2 separate regions of the Homo sapiens genome follow, and region 1 is linked to region 2. The links come from fine-mapping of genetic effects on gene expression. Tissue or cell type: whole blood. Region 2 holds a variant in brackets; the other region holds the start of a gene. All regions are shown on one strand. Distances are between the middles of the regions.

Region 1 (2,683 bases), 32 kb before region 2:
ATGCAAACCGTGTTCAAATAAGGCAAAGACCAAGCTGTAATAACCGGTGTTTTTTTTTTTTTTTCTTTTTGCAGGGGCCATGCTAATCTTCTCTGTATGGTTCCAATTTTAGTATATGTGCTGCCATAGCAAGCACCAGTGTTTTTCTTTTAACACCGTTCTGGACGTTTTATCTGGACATACACTGTTGTTTTTCTGTCTAGCTTCTTTCACTTAGCATGATGCTTTCATGGTTCATCATTGTAGTATTCATTTATTGCAGAATAATGTTCCATTGTACTGTATAGATATACCACACTTTATCCATTTGCCAGTTAATGGACTCTTGGGCTGCATCCAGTTTTTGTCTATTATGAATAATGCCGCTGTGAACATATGAACACATGGACATGTTTGCATTTCTCTACCTACAAGTGGAGATATATAGACAGAATTTTTTTTAAGGCTGTATGTCATTTCACAGCTGGTCTTCCACTGCTTGGATGCACAGTATTTTATTTTATTTTATTTTACTTTTTTTTGAGACGGAGTCTCTCTCTGTCGCCCAAGCTGGAATGCAGTGGCATGATCTCAGCTCACTGCAACCTCTGCCTCCTGGGTTCAAGTGATTCTCCTGCCTCAGCCTCCCGAGTAGCTGTGACTACAGGCGCGCGCCACCATGCCCGGCTAATTTTTTGCAGTTTTAGTAGAGACGGGGTTTCACCGTGTTAGACAGGATGGTCTCAATCTCCTGATCTCGTTGGATGCACAGTATTTTATTTAACATATTCGCTGCCGATAGACAAGTCGTTTCTACACGTGAATTTCTTTTTTTTTTTTTTTTTTGAGACTGAGTCTCATTCTGTCGCCCAGGCTGGAGTGCAGTGGCACGATCTCAGCTGACGGCAACCTCTGCTTCCCGGGTTCAAGCGATTCTCCTGCCTCAGCCTCCGGAGTAGCTGGGACTACAGGCGCCTGCCATCACGCCCGGCTAATTTTTGTTTGTTTGTTTTTAGTAGAGACGGGGTTTCACCATGTTAGCCAGCCTGGTCGTCTCGAACCTCTGACCTCAAGTGATCCGCCCGCCTCGGCCTCCCAAAGTGTTGGGATTACAGGCGTGAGCTACCGCGCCCGGCCTCACATGTGAATTTTTTTAAAAACACCACCAGCAAAACCCCACTATTCCCATTTTCCTGAGAAAGACGCTGAGGTCCAGAGAAAGAGAAAACGTTCTCATAATTTATGCTGAAAGCTGCGTCCTCAAGTTCCGGTTTCCCAACTCCCATCCGCACTCCAACTGCTCGCGCAGTCCACACAGGATACCTGCCCGCCAAGCCGGCCCCAGCAAGCCGCAGGAAGCCGTCCGCTGAACCTCAGGTTCTTGGGTTTTCCTATGCCCCCTGGAGGCATCTGCGAACCTCTCGGCATCGCTCCACCACACCTCCCACCAGCAGGTGGCACTGTTGCCATCTCCATAACATGGACTGGCCTTCCTTGTGGTGCTCCTGTTTTCTTAAGTCCCGGGGCACTTCCGGCACTCGCGGAACTTTGGTGCAGCCTGATGCGCAACGTGGGGACTCAGGCGCGCTGGGCGGCAGGAGTTGCTTCCGGCCGTGTTGGTGGTCTGAATTGAGAAGCCGCGACTAAGGGAAGATGGAGACAATACTGGAGCAGCAGCGGCGCTATCATGAGGAGAAGGAACGGCTCATGGACGTCATGGCTAAAGAGATGCTCACCAAGAAGTCCACGGTGAGTGGGGCCTGAGCAGAGGCTGCGGCAGGAGCACGAGCCTCTATCCCGTGTTTGACCTCTGAGAGCTTGCTTTGGCCCTCAGAACCTCCCTGCCTTCCTCCGGGCTCCCTCTCCGAGCTCCGGTCTTGGTAACCTCCTCCCGGGGTCCGGAGCCCCAGAGGCCTTTCTGCCTCAGCTGGTAAAAGCTGAGCGGGTAAGCTCCGCCCTCGGGCGGCCTTTTCTACTCCAGAACGCAAACTAACGGCGTTTGTGTCACCGTTTGTTTTTTCAGCTCCGGGACCAGATCAATTCTGATCACCGCACTCGGGCCATGCAAGATGTGAGTGCCCAGCTGTCTGCCTCTCTTTGGGTTGGCGAGGGCGGGAAAAGAGAGGGGAAGTGAAGTGCGGTGTCTCAGCATGAGTCCCTGGCCAAAGGTAACCGGATTGGCCAGTCGCGGGCTCTCTGCCTGGACAGATGTCCACAGGCTGCCGAACGTGAGGGTGCTTCCTCAGTTCTCTGAATGGGGAACTCTTGGGCATTCTTCATTAATCAGAAAGGTGCCCTTTTTTTTTTTCTTCTTCTTCTTCTTTTGGACGGAGTCTCGCTCTGTTGCCTAGGCTGGAGTGCAGTGGCGCGGTCTCGGCTCACTGCAACCTCCGCCTCCTGGGTTCAAGCGATTCTCCTGCCTCAGCCTCCGGAGTAGTTGGGACTACAGGCGCTCGCCACCACGCTCAGCTAATTTTTGTATTTTTAGTAGAGACGGAGTTTCTACTAAACATGTTGGTCAGGCTGGTCTCGAACTCCTGACCTCGTGATCCACCTACCTCGGCCTCCCAAAGTGCTGAGATTACAGGCTTGAGCCACCGCGGCCGGCTTACACGTGCCCATTCTTACAGCATCCTGTATCCCTTGGATGTGCAAACAATAGTTATGAAGAGTCCATGACTCAGGTGCATAGCTACAATCCTTC
Region 2 (2,683 bases):
GGTGAAACCATATCTCTACAAAAAATACAATAATTAGCGGGGAGTGGTGGCACATGCCTGTGGTCCCAGCTGTTCAGGAGGCTGAAGCAGGAGGATTGCTTGAGCCCAGGCTGTCGAGGGTGCAGTGAGCTGTGATCGCACCATTGCACTCCAGCCTGGGTGACAGAGCAAGAACTTACCTCACAAAAAAAAAAAAAAGAAAAAAAAGTTGAAATGGCAAGTGGGAGTACCCAATCTCATGTTCTGCCATGGAGATTTATAGACTAAAATGCCGAGACTCTGTATCATGTATTAGATCTCCTTTGAGGAAAGCATCTAATGAGAGATGATACTCTCATAGCGACAGGGAGATGTCCTTGTTGGTCTTATGATGGTCATCCCAAGCAGCAGGTTTCAGAGATCAAGAATGACATGTATGTAAGGAATGGTACTGACTCACTCCAAGTCCCATAGTAACTGACAATAGCCTCCCTTTTTTTGAGTCAGTGGTTTTCAGTATTTTTTTTCTTTTTGGCAGCAAAACTCTCTTCCACTTGTAATATAGTACTCTGATATATAAAATAGAATCAAGCAGAATTGCCCTGGACATGGGGAAGCTCAGACTTCCTGGCTTCCCTTTCAACCCCTGCAATGGCCTCTGAGCAGAATCCTGGGATTCTTGGGAACCATTTGAAAACTGCTGTTGTAGGTCAGCCTTTCTCAACCAGGGTTCCCCATCTTAAACATAGAGAGCTAAATAAACTATTTTCTCAGATACTCTAATGATGGGTCATGACTGATATCATTCTAGATGTCTACGAGAGAAGTTAATTCATTGCACACGGTGGCTGCTTTGGGGCAGTGGGACTTAATTCTCTTGTGGAACCCCAGTTGAGAAAGGCTTAGATGAATGCCAATCTTAGTGTACCAGAGTATGCCATGGAATCAGGCCAGGATGAGCTCAGGTACTTAGAGATTGGTTCCAAACATTTCTTTTAGGAGAGCTGTCTAACAAAGTGTACCCCTTCCTTTTCAGGAAGAATATGAAGACTCAAGTGGGAATGTTGTGAATAAGAAGACATACGAGGATCTGAAAAGACAAGGACTGCTCTAGTGTTCAGGGATGTAGCTCAGCTTTTGGGCTAGCCCAGGCTTCCCTAAGATCTGCTTTTTCTATTTCTCCCAACCAAATCCTCTTAAAGACCCTTTGCTATGTAGTCTCATGGTCTAGCATGCATCTTGTAGAAACAAGGCATGCTGGCAGATTGCAGGGTTGAGATGTGTTTTATCTGTTTTATATTTTAAAAGATTCTGCCAGAAAATAAAACCAGACCTTGTTCTAAAGCCCAGGGTTATGGACCAACTCAGTGCTTCAGGTCTTAACGCCTCCATACCTCTTCCTCACCAACTTTACTAGTAGCTGAGATTTAATGGGCACCTATTATGCTAC[A/C]TATCATGTTAGGTAAATCTGACCTGACCTCTTTCCCCACCCTCCTTTGTTGCTGCTTCCCTGAATGAGTATTACCCCAGGATGAGGTCTGCCATCAGCTTAGTTAGCCATTGATGCAAATACTAGGGAAAGACTAGGAGGATGAGCCAGGGTTGCTACTAAGGACTAAGTGTCGCACCAAGGTTTGCCTTTTGTATTTGCATAAAGAAAGGAGTTGGAGCTGGGTGCAGTGGCTTGTGCCTGTAGTCCCAGCTACTTGGGAGGCTGAGGCAGGAGGGTTGCTTGAGACTAGCCTAGGTAACATAGTGAGACCCTGTCTCATTAAAAAAAAAAAAAAGGCATGGTGGCACGCACTGTAGTCCCAGCTACTCAGGAGACTGAGGCTAGAAGATCCTTTGAACCTAGGAGTTTGAGACCAGCCTGGGCGATATAGTGAGGCCCCATCTCAAAAAAAAAAAAAGGGGGGGGGGGGGGAGTTGGGCTGTGTTGGAATGGGCCTGCAGCCCAACAAACAAGGGAACTAGGACCGACAGTGACTTCACCAGCTTGCTAGGTCAGAATGAGAGACTGGTGGGTCTGTCTACCTGTTTCTTCTACAAGATCCCTATTTGACTGTAAAAGTAGCTAATACTCACATGTTCTCCAATCCCAGGTAGCCATGGTAGAGTTGGGTAGAGTTGAGCAGCTGCCCCAGGATCCAAATGTGGTGTCTGAAATGGAAAGAACTAAGGCAACCAGGAAGGCACTGATCTGCCTTATAAGCACAGTCATCTGAAAGTCAGGCCTGCTGCAGGACAGGATCCCCCAGAGACCCCATTTGCCTCTCAACACTCAGACCTTCAACTGTTTTTTAATAAATCTACTTTTTAAAAAAATGTTAATCTTTTTCTTTATATTACACATTTATATCTTATTTTTCTAAAAACCTACCAAGAACCAGTGCCGCACTCATCCCATGCAGAGGCAGGCTGGCTAATATATCTACTTTTAAAAATTCCAACTCAGGCCATGCGCAGTAGCTGATGCCTGTAATCCAAACACTTTGGGAGGCCGAGGGCAGCAAATTACTTGAGGTCAGGAGTTGGAGACCAGCCTGGCCAACATGGCGAAACCCTGTCTCTACTAAAAATACAAAAATTAGCCAGGCGTGATGGCATGCACCTGTAGTCCCAGGTACTCAGGAGACTGAGGCAGGAGGATCACTTGAACCCAGGAGGCGAAGGTTGCCATGAGCCGAGATCACGCCACTGCACT

The links. PIP is the estimated chance that this variant, and not a neighbour inherited with it, causes the effect.
Region 1: SF3A3 starts here. The variant in region 2 is fine-mapped to the expression of SF3A3 in whole blood (TOPMed, PIP 0.96).

What each region holds. Positions count from the first base shown.
Region 1 is chr1:37,988,915-37,991,597 of GRCh38, reverse strand. SF3A3 (splicing factor 3a subunit 3) reads left to right here and starts at 1,576. Exons shown (of 17, transcript NM_006802.4): 1 at 1,576-1,728; 2 at 2,003-2,050. The coding sequence starts at 1,633. It also overlaps the pseudogene RNU6-510P. RefSeq lists enhancers at 418-963, 1,355-1,524, 2,225-2,324.
Region 2 is chr1:37,956,596-37,959,278 of GRCh38, reverse strand. It overlaps SF3A3 (splicing factor 3a subunit 3), which reads left to right. Exons shown (of 17, transcript NM_006802.4): 17 at 1,016-2,304. The coding sequence ends at 1,093. Among named protein-coding and RNA genes, the nearest start is that of INPP5B, 11 kb to the right of the region's middle. The variant A/C (reference allele first, on the strand shown) is at 1,430.